Linked DNA regions of Homo sapiens: region 2 is linked to region 1. The links come from fine-mapping of genetic effects on gene expression. A gene starts in region 1. The other region holds a variant in brackets. All regions are shown on one strand. Distances are between the middles of the regions. Region 1 holds the start of CDYL (chromodomain Y like). Region 2 has its middle 170 kb from the start of LINC02533.

What was found.
Region 2: its variant is fine-mapped to the expression of CDYL in skeletal muscle (GTEx, PIP 0.97).

The regions. Positions count from the first base shown.
Region 1 is chr6:4,772,135-4,780,728 of GRCh38, reverse strand. CDYL (chromodomain Y like) reads right to left here and starts at 4,325. Exons shown (of 7, transcript NM_004824.4): 1 at 3,922-4,325. The coding sequence starts at 3,945. It overlaps CDYL-AS1 (CDYL antisense RNA 1), which reads left to right and starts at 5,303. Exons shown (of 2, transcript NR_183279.1): 1 at 5,303-5,457; 2 at 5,972-6,203. RefSeq lists silencers at 3,974-4,523, 4,544-5,173 and enhancers at 4,981-5,634, 7,559-8,110.
Region 2 is chr6:4,319,061-4,327,654 of GRCh38, reverse strand. No RefSeq gene overlaps it. Among named protein-coding and RNA genes, the nearest start is that of LINC02533, 170 kb to the left of the region's middle. The variant A/G (reference allele first, on the strand shown) is at 4,590.

The sequences.
Region 1 (8,594 bases):
TTAAAAATGGAAAACGTTTTGTAGAATTGCTTTTACACGCTAATGCCATTTAAGCCTCAATTATTTGGTTATCATCCTCCTATTTTACTGATGAGAAAGTTTAGGATAGTTAAGACAAGTACAAGATGAGTTACTTAACAAGCTTCTAAGAACAAGGGAAGGCCGGGTGCAGTGACTCATGCCTGTAATCCCAGCACTTTGGGAGGCCAAGGTGGGCGGATCACTTGAGACCAGGAGTTTGAGACCAGCCTGGCCCACAAGGTGAAACCCTGTCTCTACTAAAAATACAAAACATTAGCCGGGGCGGGGGCGGGGGCGGGGGGGGGGGGGCGTAGGCGGGGGTGGTGCACGTCTGTAATCCCAGCCACTCAGGAGGCTGAGGCATGAGAATAGCTTTGAACCCGGGAGGCAGAGGTTGTAGTGAGCTGACAACATGAAGCCACTGCACATCAGCCTGGGAGATAGAGCAAGACTCTTGAAAAAAAAAAAGAGAAAGAAAGAAAGGAAAGGAAGGAGGAAAGGAGGGAGGATTACCACCCAGATCTTCCAGCTCTAAGTCTAGAGCTGGGATGAAAGTTAGAAATACCGTCTAACTTCCATACATCCCCAACCCTTGAGTAAACCCAGATTCCTAAACAGACTATGACAGTTGATCACCTACAGCAGGGCTTAACAAACAACAACCTACAGGGCAAAGCCAGCCCACTGCCTATTTTTGTGGAACCTACAAGTTAGGAATCATTTTTACATTTGTAAGTGATTGGAAAAAAAACACAAATGTGTATTTCATGACACATAAAATGATATGAAATATACTAAGTGAATTTTACTATCCATAAGCAGTTTGAGACACAGCGCACATTCATATAGGAGTCTACGACTGCTTTTGCACTACATGAGGTGAGCTGAGTGGTTGCAACAAAGACCATAATATAACCCACAAGTCTAAAATATGTATTATCTGGCCCTTTACATTAGAAGCGTGATGTAAAGGACGCTTGTCTTTTTGTGAAAACTATGAAGTTCTAACCTACGCCGCATCAAAAATCCGTTTTTCCTCAATCCTAGCAGCTGGAAAAGTAGGGAGTAAATCTATTCCATCCTTCAACTAATAGTAACTCTTCAAATTTTGCAAGGTTCATGCTCTACCCATCTTTTCCAGGATCTGTTCCTTTATTTTTTGTTCACAAAGCCTAGTTTCAATAGCCATTTAAACATTTACTAAAGACCTATTACTACATACCAGGTTCCATGCTAAGTATTGGAGACATTTCTTTTAGGCGAGAAAACCAAGGCTCAGCAGTTGGGTAACTCACCCAAGTTCCCAGTTACTGCAGACCTGTCCTCCTACCAGACCATGTGAGTTCAAAGAAGCAAGACTTCACATTTCCTCCTGTCAATATATCCCTCTAGATTTGTGGAGCCTGAGGCCAAACAGAAAACTTCTATTTCAGTTTAGGCAGAACTGGACAAAACAAGGCAACTAACAACCCTTGACTTGGCCACAAAACATCATCTTAGTGTCTTTCCCAGCCTTGTCAGACTATCGCGTTCATTTACAATTGCGTATCACTTCTGCCCTACAGATAATACTGCCTTTATGAAAACAATACAACTCTATACCTTTAGAAACAAAACCAGGTTTCAGGGAGGCATTTTAAGCCAGTTACCATACAATCATCATCACTTACTGGGTGCTTGCCATGGGAATTTTAGGGTGGGCTTTACATATGTTCTCATGTAAACTTCATAGCTCTATAAGGGAAACACTGATCCCAATTTCACAGATGAGGAAACTGAGCTTTCAAGGCTAATTTACCCAAGGTGATAGAGTTGGAAGTCACTAACTGGGTTGTCTGACTCCAAATCTAGGCTCTCAACTGCCATGCAAAACTTTCAATGTCAACTTTCAATGGTAACATAGTCACAGTGTTGCCTACAAGTAAAAGAAAAGTTACAAATTTTGCCTTGAAAGATACTGACCACTACATATTTACTACACATACTTAAATTTATCACCTGAACTATACTTCTATAATACCTTTTTTTCCAAAACTAAAATAAAACTCAGAATCAAAAGTTCAATTGTGCAGGTGTATCATTTATTTGCAATATACTTACTTCCTCCCCAACAGACACTCCTTGAAAGCATGAACCATTCTCACACCTCAGTATTTCCCCATGAAACCTCCATATGGCAAGCATTCAATAAACGTTAAATGAACACAAACTTAGTACAAAATGTTACTCATTAATAACTTCTGTTAGGAACAGAAACCTGAAGATATAGAATAAGCACAGAAGGAACTAAACTTAGTTCATAATATACTAATGGGAAATGTGCTGTCTTCAGAATCATTCTTACACACATAGGATACAACTTACGTATAAGGTGCTACTCTCATCCACTGATGGAACTGATTATGTAATCATACTCATAAAAGCAAATGCCAAGAGTGAACACTCATGACTAAACAACCAAAGAATGATCTAATGTAGAAACTAAAATCCCCCATACCCTCATGCTATGTACTTCCCCCTGTACAGACTTCACCTGGAAGACCTCAACCTCAAACATCCTAGCCTCCATTTCTGTGTCTTCCAGACACACAACACTTTCCTTCCTAGAAGGAAAGCTCCTGAGAACAGGGAGATTTTTCTTCTTTTACATCCCCAAATGACCTAAAATAGTATCCTGAATACAGCGGGGCACAGCTAATGTGTAAAATGGTTGAAAAGAATGGAACATTTTCAGTACCAGCTAAGGTATACTGACCACATACAATGTAAGGAGAAGCAACAACCTTACCCTTAATTCTACAGATGGCAGCTTCCTCCTGAGAACTTCTGCAAACACTTGCTCTTAAAAAGCAACAAAAAAGTTGCTAGAAGACTAACATCGCAGACAACAAAGCTCTATTCTATGCCAACAGCAATAATACGCCCATAAGAGAAGACAACTGAAAGGATCCCTGGGGCCACAGGGCTCTACTTGTTACAGATGCTTCCTTAAGTCCCTCAACACCCAGGTCCCTAAACGCATCATAAAGGTGAGTCTAGAGAGTCTTCGCAAGTTTTAAGTCTCTTAGGAACTTATTTATAAATACATGTGAAACAAGAGAATCATTTATCCAGAAGAACAGAAAGCCTTCCAAACTTCTGTACTCCCAGGAAGTCTACTTTGAAATACGTCAAAAGAAGTTACATGGAGACATACAAAACATGTCTAAAGATCCAAATTGGTAACTCTCAAACTTGAAGCTGGTTTAAACCCATCGACCAGAACTTACAGTTCTGGCTATGCCCTTCTCATTTGCAACGCTGCGGCGCAAATGAATGACGGTGTATCAGCGTTAAATTTAAATTTCCTGGCTCTGGCCACAATGCTAACCTAATTAAAGCATGTGGTCAACGTTTAGCATTTTCGGTGCGAGATTTTGCATCGCTTTGGCGAACAGCAAAGTCGAAAGCGTTTGCACCGGTCTTCTCCCCGCCACCCCCCGACCAGGGGCAAAACCCTCTCCCAAATGCTTTATCAAATGATCCAGAAACCCCCCCACACCCCACCCCCCGTACCGCCCACGGTCCCCGCCGAGCGGCAACGGAGGCACCACTTCCACGACCCACGCCAAGAGCACTTTGAGCTCAGTCCGAGCAAGTCACTTGTGTCAGCACCACTTCCCCACGGCTGGGACCCCCCCCCCCACCCCACGCCCGGCAACTTCAGGACCCCCCGGCCGGGGCCCCTCGGAACGGAGGCTCGGGCTCCCCTCACACACATTTCCCGTCCAGCAAACTGCGGCCGCGGCGGGGGAGGGGACGCGGCGGGCGCGGGCGGCGAGCGGGGCCGTCGGGCGGCGCGGCCGGGCCGGGAGGGGCGGCGGGCGGGGGGCGGCCCGAGGCCGGGGGGAGGGGAGGTACCTCGTACAGCTCCTCGGAAGCCATGGTGGGCGGCGGAGTTGCGGGCGGGAGGGGCAGGGTCGGGGCGGGCGCCGGCGCCGGGCGGCCGACACTTTGTTTCAGTTGGGTCCTGCGTGGCCTGCGCTTCCTGCTCCCGCGGCCGGCCGGGCGCTGGGCACGGACGAGCCTCTTGCACTCCGCGGCCAGTGCGGGCCGGCGGCGCGGCGGGGTTGTGCGCAGGAGCAGCTACGCAACGCGCCCTGGGCGCCCCGCGCTCACTCCCCGGCGGGCCGGCTCGCGCTCGGGCTCATCGCGCCCCGCCGCGGGGCCGGGCGGGCTGGGGCGGGCGCGGCGGCGTGCGGGCGGCGCGGCCGGATCGCGGCTCCCCTCTCCGGTGTAGTGCAGAAAGCTTCCTACTTGCGACCAAAAAACCTGCCCCGGCTACTGAGCATGCCCAGTGCGGCCGCCCGGCCCTGCGGAGCCGCGCTCCCGCGCTCCGGGTTTTCGGGCCGCCCGCGCGGGAGGGGCGGGGCGGCGGCGGGGCGGGGCAGCCGAGGGGAGCAGTGGGCTCCGCTCGGGGCCGAGGCGGGCGGCCGGCGGGGCCGGGAGCGAGCCGGCAGGAAGGGGAGGAGCGGGGCAGTCGGGGGCGGGGCCGCGAGCGCGGGGGGCGGGGTGGTGGGCGGGGCTCCGACTTCCCCAGTCCCGCTTGCGGGGTCGGCCTGGCCCGCGGCACCGCCCCCCAGCCCGCCTCGACGTGGGCGCTTGCGGCCCGGCCCAGGGCAGGCGGGACCTGGACCTCGAGGTTCGAGGCGCAGCGCGGTTGTGCACACCAGGACGGGCAGCGACGGACCCGAGATGGGGCAGGGAACCATGCGAGCGAGCCGGCCCGCGTCTGGAGCCCACCGCCCCGACGGCAGCGGCCGCGCCGTCTACCGCGCGCCTCCCTCCAGGAGGAGCCCAAGAGGCGGCCTCCGTGCGCCCGCCCGTCCGGGGCCGGGCCAGCCCGCGAAGGGCCGGCGGCGTGGCCAGGTGGAGCACCCACCCCACCCCATGCCCGCCCCACCGGCCGCCGCCAAGACCCGGAGCCCGGGCCGCGCGCCCCGCGGGGTGGCCCGGCGAGCTCCGGCTGGCACGCTGGCTCCGCGGCAGGCCGGGGGTGGGATCCGGGGGGCGGGAGCCGGGCGCGGCGGAGGGCGGCGCGAGGGCGCGGCTGCCTCCGCTCTGCCCGCAGCTCCCCCCACGCCAGGCCTCTGGGTTCCTCTCGGAGCGTCCGCCTCCTCCGAAGCGCAGCTGGGAAGGGACCGAGTCTGGATTCCAGGGAGGTCCGGGTTCTAATCGAACGAGGCTGTCAATGGTGGTTCCTTTCGCGGAACGGTGTGGACTACACGACAGGCCCTCGCTCAGAACAGCGAGGGCTGGCCCGCGCTCCACTTCCCAGGGAAGATCTACTGCCAGGGCACACCTGCCGGGCCCTGGACGTGCCCCATCGGTGGCGAAAGAAGGGGCTTCCTGACCCAACTCCCCCAGACAGCCGCCAACTCCGATCACTCTGGCCGAGTATGCGGAACTTCCCCACGGGGCACTGCAGAGGCATTAGTTCACCCTCTCCCCCAGGCCCTGCATCGGGAAGCCCTCGCCAGTTCCTCCATGTCTCCCCGGGCATCCTTCGGGCCGCCTCACTCCTCCGTGCTCCATCTCGCTCCAGTTCCTAACCTACCTTGGAGCCACAAGGCTCCTCCCACCAGTTTTCTTCCTAAAGCCCTATTCGTTTGTGCCCCCCAACAGCGTTTCAACAACCACGGGGCGTCTCACAGACCCCGCGGTTTCCTGTCCTCCCCACGCCCAGGAACAAGCACCACGCCAACCCTTAAGTCACTGCGAGTCGAATCGCCGTTCCCCTTAAGCGGTGCTTCTACCTGCGGTCCCCACCGTTTGAAACAAACTCCCAGCTCAGGGATCACCTTAAAAGGATAGCCTTCCTGACTTCCAGGGCCAAATCGGTAACTCCCTCTTCAAGCGCTGCCTAAGCACTCACGCGTGCTCACTGCAGCACTCGTCTCTGTATTTTAAGGTTTGTCTACTCTTCACCCCACCCCAACTCCAAACGATGACCTTCAGTCAGACTTCATCTTCAAATTTGACGCTGGCCCCTAGCACCATTCTCTATACAGGAAATAAGGTGTTGTTCAATGAATGGAATTTCAGTGTCCACGAGAAAGCCCAATACCTACACATCCAATTCCCATTATCAAATGTTTGCACAAGAATCGCAAATTAAAGCCACCACTTCATCAACTGGTCAAGGCGCCTCAAGCTCTGCCTCTTTCCCTGATGGCCCAGCCAATTCCCTCTCCCTCCTCCAAACAGCGCCTCTTTCCTCTCACTTAGCATTTCCATTATATGCTGCATTTCATTGTTGCCTTCTCTCTAGGTTTACCAATTTATCAACAAAAGTTGTAAGTTCCTTGAAGGCAAGGACTAGGATTTTATACATTTGGGAAATCTCAAAGCATTGAGTGCACACTTCGGCAAGCGCTCAAATACTGGCAGGTGATAGTTTAAAATCCCTCAAGAAAAATCAACTGTAAAAAAGAGATCCTCAATAGGAAATAGATACATATAACATATAAGCCTATTATGCAATGATGGACCAATACAAATACAAGCACTTCTCGCCATGACCATTACTCCAATTATTGCCCCCTTCAGAACATCCACAAGCTTAGGCATTCACAAGGGGCTCCACCATGTGCGTAATGGTACTGTGGTCTCCAAGGAGTCTCCAAAACTGCCATTGTTGCCCAGGAGAGGGAAAGAAAGGAACATAGACATCCACAACAAACATATCCAGATATTGAGCTAGTAAGGCGATTTTCCCCATTGTGGAAACAAAAAGGGGAAGAATTATAGCCTCAAAAAGGCAACTCAAAAATGTCAATTTACATAGACCTTTGTCAATTTACGTAGCTTTTCAATCTTGACAATCTGGAATGTTTATGCTGCTATCCTTAGTCTACAACATTAAGAGTAACCACCAGTAGCCTCTAAAACAAAGCAGGAGTGAGCCATACTCCTAAGTTCCAACCACCTCTCCACTCTGACAGTTGGCTTCCACTGGCGAAGGAGATGGGTATCCACCTAGCGACTGAGAAATTGAGGAAGTTCTCAATTGTCCACTTTGTTCCTTTCATCTGCCCTCCATTTAAAACTCACTGATTTATGGAATGCTATTTTGCTTATATATACATATATATTTTAACCTCATTCGTTCAATTTGTCTTACTTTTAAGCAAACTTTGCTTTCCTCCGTCACTTTTTTATATAAACATTTTACCAGCACTCATAGCAGAAGTAAATATGCCCAAGATTATTTAATGACTTGGAATTTCCACCACCTTTTATGAAACAGTGAAGTTCTGTAGTTTCCATGACCACGTGTGTGGGTGCTATTATTTTCTCAGTGGCTTAAGAATAAAAGTGAAATCACATCCCCTAAGCACACCGGGAAGATTGCAGCAAAAATACATACAGCACAATACCATGCACTAGTAAGACATATGACTCTTAAAAGATTAGAGAAGTGGTCAACAAGAGAGACGATATACACACATGATTAAAAGACACGTCTACCAGCAATAAACGATTCTTACCTGACCTGCTCCCGTTGTTGTAGGCCAACATAATTCAATTCTCTCCTCCTCAAATCCAAACAATTGATCATCGATGGCAAGTTCTACCGACGATAAGACTCTTCAGATCAAGAATCACAGCCTCTTCCCATCTCGGGAGAATGATAACTAAAACCTGAAATCTGAGATCCTCCTCTTTTCCCAATCACCAGCCAAACCAGGCATGTCTTCCTTTCTCCCAAGAATCTGCATTTCATCTACATTTGAATCCAAAGGCATCCAAGGGGAGATGGGGGATGGGACAGAAAAAAACAAAAGAAGCCAAAATCTAGCTACTACTATTCTCAGAGCCAAAGGCGTTTTATGGTTGGGTAGCTGTGAAAAGCTACTGATAATGATTCCCTTCAACAGTTTTGTACCCCCAAAGCATATTCTATCCTGGTTACCTCCTCCATAACCCAAAATTTAATTGTGATTTTTATGAAGATGCGACCTAAGTTTGTTGGTTTTAAACCCACAGTGGCTGAAGGGAAATTAAATGCCGTTCTTGTCATAGAGTATCTACTCCAGAAAACTTGGTGGAATTTCCATCTCAATCACCCACTCAAAAGAAAGAACATTTTAAACCTGAGACCCAAAAGAAAGAAGCATACAGAACCATTTATAAGATTAATTCAGATGTTAGGGGCCTTGTCTGAACTGGGAGCCAACCAGTTCTTCCTTCCCTAAAAGCTTAGAGTGGATACCAGTACCTTTTTCTGGTCAACCAATAACAGCTGATTCCTTTTTTCAGTCACTGTTGCCTTCCCTGCCCAAACAGTCAGTTTCCCCATTTCGAGGGGCAGCCTCTCCCTGCCGCCCTCCATGTTGGTCCCAGGTAGGTACCATTTCTCTCTTTCATATAGAAGCCAGTAGCCAGCTGCCACACTGCTGCTCCTTGGCCAGATATCACTAGTTGTTTCATCTCTTTGCCCTCGTGATGCCAATTCTGAGACCTCTTAACATTTGATTTCACCAATTTCATCTTAGGCTGTGATACCATCACTGGCCGGAGCTCATCAATCT
Region 2 (8,594 bases), 450 kb after region 1:
TCACAGAGATTACATCCTAATGAGGGCAGCCTTCATTTCCAGCTTCATTGACTATACTTGTTTCAACTCTCTATTTGTTGAGGGAGGCAGAAAGTATAGGCTAGACTTACTCACTTATGGATTCAGTATTGTATTTTAAAACATTTAAAAATATATCCAGCATCCAGATGCTTTCCATGGGGAGCTTTTCAGCATATCTGGTCTGCAATACTTTCAGAAGGAACCAAATTGTTTTTCTCAAACCCAATAACTTCAGTTGGTTCTTCTCAAATTATTATTCTACCTTCATGTTGAATATCCTTTCTTGGCTACTTGAAGCTATGTAAAAGCTATTTTAATTGTTTTCTCTTTTTGGTCAATTAATTCTTATTTGCCTGGTATAATTTGTTCAGTGTATTGTGTTTCTTTATGGTATTTGTGCTCTTCAAATGTGTCATTATCTTTTCCTCTGAGCTCATATTTCCTTGGTTCTATCAAAGCTGGCAATTGCCCTCCGACCATAAATCATTAGAAAATTGGAAAACAAAATCTATTAAACAACTGTTTTCAGACGTTGAACCACAGGCAGCACAAGACTATGACTCCAGTGAGAACAAAGACAAATGAAGTGAGCCCTGCACTTGTACCAGCTTCCTACCTGGCAGCCGTTTCTAGGTTACAGTGCAAGGAGGAAAACCCAATAATTCCCAGCAGTCTTACCTAGTGAGGAGTAGAGATCAGAACTTGAGAAAGCAGAAGCACCTAGAATTGGCTGGGTGGATGCCTGGAGCAGTGGTAGCTACATGGAGTGAGGGCTTAAGAGAACAGAGGAGTCCCCTGGCGTCTTTGGCCAAATTGTGATCTGAGCATGCATGGAAGGAAAATCCACAACACCAGAGAAAGAACCACTGAGAAGCAATAGGTTGAACAATTCCCGGAGTTCTCACAGGGCTGGGGAGAGTTTGCAATCCCATCAATTATAAGAGACCTCACAATACACAGGGCATTGGATAGGGAGAGTCCTTAGAAGGGCCACACCTTAGTAGTGAGACTGTTAGCCTTAGAGTAAGGGCTGCTCTGGATCTACCCTTATAAGCCTGAAAAGCAAGCCTCAAAAGGATCAGTCTGATCTGCAAGTAATGTAACTGCAGGAAGAACACAGTCCAACACTCTTTAAAGGAATATGACAAAATCCAGCATTCACTGACCTAAAATTCTTGCTGCTCAACATTTAAAATTTGTTTATAATTTGTATTAACTAATTTTTCTGGGAATCATGTGGTCTTGACTTAGGTCTTATTTAAATCTATTTACTAAGCCTGAATGTGATCAATGTATAAGAAATTTACAGAGATTAAGTACCCAAATACTCAAAGTACTTGTATTCTTTTAGTATCATATATCCCAAGAGCTATGAACAACCAGTGTTTCCCAATGGTTTTTAAATTATTGCTCCCCTAAGGAGTATTTTAAACATTTTTTTATAATTACTCCATTGCATAAGATTTTAATATGGCAGATATAATGTATACACTTTTATGCATTGGCTTACGTAAATGTATATCTATGATTTAGACATTAAAAGAGTAAGATTTTTCCATCCCCTTGGGAACAATATTTTTCCCATTGAGAATGCATGCTCTAGAGCCTCTGCAGTCAGTTATTTCAAACATTAAAAATGTCAGTCCTTTATGCTTATCTGCCTGCACGTCCTATCTTCTAGCAACAAAAAAATTAGAAGTCAAAATTTTCAAAATGGATTTCCAGTGGCATCCAAAACATGAAATATTTGACAAAAGAGGTCAAAAAACCTGTACACTGAAAACTATGAAAAGTCACTGAAGAAATTAAAGACCTAATTTAAATGGACAGCTACACCATGTTCATGCATTGGAAGACTTTAATGTTATTATGATATCCACTTCCCCCAAAATTGACCTATAGATTGAATATAATTTCTATCAAAATTTCAAATTTTTTAATATATAAATTAACAAACTGCTTCTAAAATTTATATGAAAGGTAAAAAATCTAGCTTGGATAGTCAAAGCAATTTTGAAAAAGAACAAAGTTGGGAGACTTACACTGCCTAATTTTAAGACTTAATCCAAAGCTACAATAATCAAGACAATTTGGTCATTGTGTAAGGATAAACATGTGGACTAGTGGAACAAAATAGAAAGTCTAGAAATAGACCATACACAAAGCTGCCAAGGTATTTCAATAGGGAAATAACAGGGTCTTTTTTTCAACAAATGGTGCTGTAATAACTGGCTATTCATATAGAAAAATATGAGCATCAACACTTATCTCACGCCATATAAAAATATTAATTCAAAATAGGTCAAATACCTAAAAGTAAAACTTAAAACTATAAACTTTCTAGAAAAAAAATATAGGGGAAAATCTTTGTAACCTGAAGTTAGGCAGATATTTCTTAGTTATGGCCCGAAAAAGTATAAACATAAAAGAAAAAACACAAATTGGACTTCATCAAAATAAAAAACTTGAAAACTTTGAAAGATATTGTTAAGAAAATAAAAATGCATGCCACAGACTGGGAGAAAAATATTTGAATAACATACACATTATAAGGTATTTATCTTTAGAATATAGAAAGAATTCTTGGAACTCAGAATAAGAAGACAAATAACCCAATTAAAAATAGAAAATATATTTGAACAGGAATTTTACCAAATAAAATATATGATGGCAAAAAAAAACCACAAAAAGATCCACAACATCATTAGTTATTAAAAAGAATGCAAGTTGAAACCATATGTTACTAATACATACTACTAGAATGTCTAAAGTTAAAAAAAAAATAAAACTGACCATACCAAGTGTTGACTAGGAACTCTCAAACATTGCTGTTGGGACTGCAAAGTGGTACAGTCACTGTAGAAAATCAGTTTAGCACTCTGTAATACAATTAAACCTACATTTTCCATATGACCCAGCAATGCTACTTCTAGGTATTTACCCAAGAAAAAGAAAATATTGTACATGAGTGTGTATAGCAGCTTTATTTGTAATAGCCAAAAACTATAAGCAACTCCAATGTCCATCAACCAGTGAATGACTAAATGACTTTTGGGATATTCATGCAATATTCAGCAATATGAAGGAACAAACGACTGATACATTCAATGCCATGATGAATCTCAAATGCATCACACTTAGTGAAAGAAGCTAGACTACTTCTTTCACTACCATATGATTCTATTTATATAAAATTGTAGAAAAGGCAAAACGACGATGATAAAGAACAGATCTATCTTTCTGGGGAAAGGTACTAGGGTGGGGTATTGGTACGGGAATTCTGTAAAGGGTCATTAGTGAACTTCTTGAACTGAAAAAATTGTTGTGTCTTGATTGTGATGGTAGTTACACTAATACACCCACTTGTCAAAACTCAACACTGAAAACAAGTAAATTTTATACACATTATAGTTCAATAAATCTGCCTCTTTTTTTTTTTTTTTTGATGGAGTTTCGCTCTTGTTGCCAAGGTTGGAGTGCAATGGCACAATCTCAGCTCACCACAACTTCCGCCTCCCAGGTTCAAGCAATTCTCCTGCCTTAGCCTCCTGAGTAGCTGGGATTACAGGCGCCTGCCACCACGCCCAGCTAATTTTTTGTATTTTTAGTAGAGATGAGGTTTCACTATGCTGGCCAGGCTGGTCTTGAACTCCTGACCTCAGGTGATCCACCTGCCTCAGCCTCCCAAAGTGCTGGGATTACAGGCGTGAGCCACTGCGCCCAGCCCCTGACTTTTTTTTAAAAAAGCCCATACCCCTAAGTAAATACTTCTAATTCTAAATACATTCTGGATTTCAGAATGAGTAGAAGGGATATGGACTTGGAAGGATCTTCTGGCTTTACAATCTGGGTTCAGCAACTCCTCCCCACTTATTTGCCACAGGTAAACCTGCTGCTAGGTAGATCTGTCTTCCAAGATCTGCTACATAGAATGCAACTGATAACACAGGAGTGGCATCCAGGATGAAGAAAAAAAGAATTCTCAGGATCTTCCTGATCCTCTCACTGTTGTTACTCTTTCACTCCTTACCCAGCCAGTCTCTGGGCCTTCCCTAATTTTCGCCTCTTGCCTTTGGCTGGCTCTAAGCTGCTGCTGCTGTTTTCCTTACCATCCATTTCCCCATAAAAGCGTGAGTAGTAATGTGGTTGAGGGGGAGGGCCAGAGGTGGAGAGATATAACTAGAAAGTTTTCTCAAAATTCATTCCTCAATACCAGGCTCTCTCTCACTCTATGTTTTCCACTGCACCTGGAACCACTCTATTTCATCTTCCCAAAGATTTCTCATGATTTTTGCACTAGATTCTGGGAACCATCAATATCTTCTGGCTTCTTGGGTAGAGATCCTGGGAAAGAGCCAACAGCTGGTGCTTGTCCATAATCATTGTATTTACTGAATTCCAAACTAACTTTTGTCTTGAATCTTTTTGCTTGAATAAAAGTTGAAATTGGATTATAAATCAATGCAACAGTCAACAGCAGCTCTACTGAAGCCAAGGTGGGGCTGGGTCCCATAGTGCTGCCCTACAGGGTTGGGAAAGAAAGACAAGGAAGATTCCAGGAACACTGA[A/G]TACTGAAATCAAAGAAGCAGAGACAGAGATGATGTAATGTGCTTGGGGCAATATGAGCAGGCCAGTCTGGAGGAACAAGAATAAAGATAAGGTTGGAAAGCTGGGGGTGGGGTGTCAGTTCATGGGACTTTACATGACAATGGAGGAAGTTTGTTTTCTGCAGGCAATAAGGAGCCATGGATAATTCAGATGATCCAGCAGCATTATGATCTGATACGTTGTTTCAGGCTTAAAAGCCAAACTTCCCAATGGAAAGGCAAAGAAGCTGCTGGGGATAGGGGAGCTGGAGCACTGGGCTTTTGTCAAGAACTCTTGGCTGGTGTAATCGAAGGTAGGAAATGCTGGAAGCACAGAGCAAGAGCAGAACTTTCTAGTTCAGCCTCCGGATTTTACAGCTGAGGAAACGAGGCCAAAGAAAATCAGAGACTAGCCAAGTGTCAAAGTGAGTTAGTGGCAGACCTGGGACTAGAATACTGTTCTTTGGACACTCACACCTATGCTCAGTGCTGGCAGCAAGGCCTTCACACAGTTGTGCAGTTGGAAGTAGCCAATGATTTTCGAAAATTCCTATTCATGGAGGAAGACGTATAAAATGGTCAGATCATGGAAAATGACATTCCAGTTGGGTCTTTCCAACCCACTGTACAGGAACAGCTTCTCAGACAAAGTGTATTTGCCCGTGGTCTTTCCAATAAATTCTCAAATAGATGTCAAGATTGAGCAGTCAACTTGGTCACTTCCTCAAGCAGGCTTTTGGACTTAATGGAAAGTGCACATCCAGCCACCTAAGCACTTGAGCCCAAACCCTGGCTCAACATCTGGTCCCTGTTTCTCAGTGTCAGGTTGAGTGGATTGTGCAAAGCACACATGCCTCCTACCAATTTAGCAATTGATAACTTGCTCTGGGGGAGCACTTACAAGGAGTCCTCTTGCTCTTTGTCTTTATTCTCTGGCTATTGGGGGTTTTTTAGGTCACAAAGAGGGAATGGGACAGGGAAAAAACTTAAAAAATTATTTCTCAATCTCAAACTGGGAGCCAAGTAACTTAACCTACTAATTGTTCTGAAAGATTTCCTTTGCTCTTTCTCCTTCAACACAACAACCTCTTGTCAGAAATCATTCATTGTGGCCTGCAGAAATTACACACTAAATTCCAAGGTTGGCCACTAGTATAAAATAATAGATCATTAGTAGACTTCTATGAATTACACATTTATAAAATAGTCCAAAAACACCATCTGGGTTGCTGCAGGTCTGCTGGGGAAACAGGTAGGGAGATGGAAGGGTCTGTGTCTTGATTCTGAGCCAGACATTTGATTGATGACTATATCGGACAGTTGACGTCTCATCTTCATTAGCAAATGTATTCCTATTATCTACTCAATGACCTAAGATCAATGTAAAAAAACAAAAATGATAACAAAAACCTTTCCCGAGCTCAAAACTTTCATGTTATTTTTTTTTCAAATGTTTCGACTGATTGGAAGAATTAAAATGAAATTTACTTCAAAAGCAGCAAACATGAGTGATGTTGTGTGCACATGAACTGGATTTATTAGGTTAAAAAAAAAAGCCCAAATAAACCATCTTAAAATATGCTAATACATGTCCATAGCACCCACAACACACTTTTCCCTAATGTTAAATATGAAAATACAGTGCAAATCACCCCGGAAATGTGTGGTGGAAAAAAAGGTATACCGTGGCTGAGATAATCAACACACACTGATTACTGTTTTTCTAAGTGCTTATGAGTCTTTTGCATTTCTTCTATATAATTCAGTATCAGAGTTAATGACGTATCATAGTTTTCTCTGATTCAGAAGCACCTCAATTCCTGAAAGTTTTTGCTCCCTTCAAGACAACTTATCTGCAGCAAAATTACCAATAAATCTCTCAGCATGAGAAATAACAGGGCTGAATGACTTTGTGATGAATAAAGAGGGTGGTTGGCTTCTCTCCATTCATCCTGATAATCTTCATTGCTATGTAAACAGTAAGAAACATTATCATGATTCATGTTCAAGTCAGTTCTCAGCTCAACACTGTATCCAGAGAAATGCTACCTAGTAAACATTTTATTAGGATTGCAAGGCACCGGCAAGAAAATGGCAAAAACATGACAGCCTGAACTTGTAAGTGAATGTGTGCATGAGAAAGAGGAATACTGAGAAAGAGTAATTAATCTCTGTGAGATCAGACACATTTAGCAGCATGTCTAATAAATGAATACTCTTCTAAACATGGTTAAACTATTCACTTTTCATTATTCTCATCAGAATCCATGTTAACCCAAGTTAGGAGATAACAGGAATAAACAGTAAATCCCACAATAAGGGTTTCAAGTCCTTCCTATTTTTAACATCCCAAAACTTAGAAGTATGAAATCAATATGATCATTACAGGGGTGCTGAAAGGCTGGGGTTGGGTAGATATTCTAAAAATGTCTGAGAACTGATAGGATCATATTTCCAAACAAGTCCAGACTTCTGTCATCTGTGCCCAGTTGGAAGAAAATTCTCAATGTAAGAAAATCATTCTCAGGCAGGCACCTGGAAGAATCTGTGATTGCCAAAACATTTCCAGTGAACCACTTTCCCTCTCAGGATACAAGGCCCCGATCCATTTGCATAAAGTCCTAATGCTAGAAAATCAACCAGAGTAGATAAGATCTGCCTGTCGGTTTCAAGCCAAGAGGAAAAGAGGAAGCCAGACACTCCTCCAAAGCTTTCTTTCCCCTTAGGATTGCATCAGTTCCCACTCTATGGGATTATTTTTAAACGCTGGTTTAAAATATTCCATAGCCCAGCTGTTCAATACCACAACATAAGGTCAATTTTATATAGTTGTACATCCTTGAAGAGCTAAAGTAAGGTGACCCAAAAGGCCAATTTTCCCCACCAATAAAATATTCATTCTTGGAAAGCTGCCATTGTGTTATGACACTTATATTTCCTTGTTTCACTAATGTAAAATTTGAACTTTGAAATACATTTGTGGATTTAATGTTTGTAGTTCTCAGGCTTGGATCACAAGATCTCAGTGTGTATCAATTACGTTTGCTAACAATGAACTGAGCCTAGATATGTCAAATCCAGTGATACTTCCCAATTGCATAGAGCCCAATTTAGCCAACCAAATTTCTTTTGAATTGTCAGAATGAGCATTGCACCTGTGAAATAGTCAAAAGAGGAGCTACTCTGGGAGGCTGAGGCAGGTGGATCACTTGAGGTCAGGAGTTCAAGACCAGCCCGGCCAACATGGTGAAACCCTGTCTCTACTAAAAATACAAAAATTGGCCGGGCATGGTGGCCTGCACCTGTAATCCCAGCTACTCAGGAGGCTGAGGCATGAGAATCAATTGAACCCTGGAGGTGGAGGTTGCAGTGAGTCTACATGGCACCACTGCACTCCAGCCTGGGCGACAGAGCAAGACTCAGTCAAAAAAAAAAAAAAAAAAAAGAAGAAGAAAAGAAAGAGGAGCTACTGCAACATAGGATGGTGAGGAAGGGAGGTACTTAACACAGACTAAGGAGCAAGAGCAACTAGCAAGGTTCAAATCCAAGCATGCCACCTGTTGGTTTAGCTGAGGGTCTGTGCCTCAGTCTTCTCTTTCAAATGAGGAAGGAACTTCCTTCACAGTTTTGTTTGGAAGACTAGATGAGATCATACCTGTGAAGCTCTTAGAAAAGGTTTTAGGCTGTGGTGAGTGTGCATGGTGTTTGACATTAGCATCCTCACGAATCAGCAGAAGCTTTTTTGTTTGTTGATCCTCACAAAATTCCTGTAGAGAGACTCGTTTTACAGATGAGGAAACTGGGACTCAGAGTGGTTAAATAACGTACTCAGGGTGATACGGTGAGAAAGAAACATCCAGGAATATTTGCTTGTTTTCTCTTTTGTGCTGTTGCTCTCTAGATACTGTATTTTACTTCTTTTTTGAGCTAACCAAAATTTTTATTTCAGTACTTTGAATTATCCCTTTTTCTCTTCTTCCTTTTATC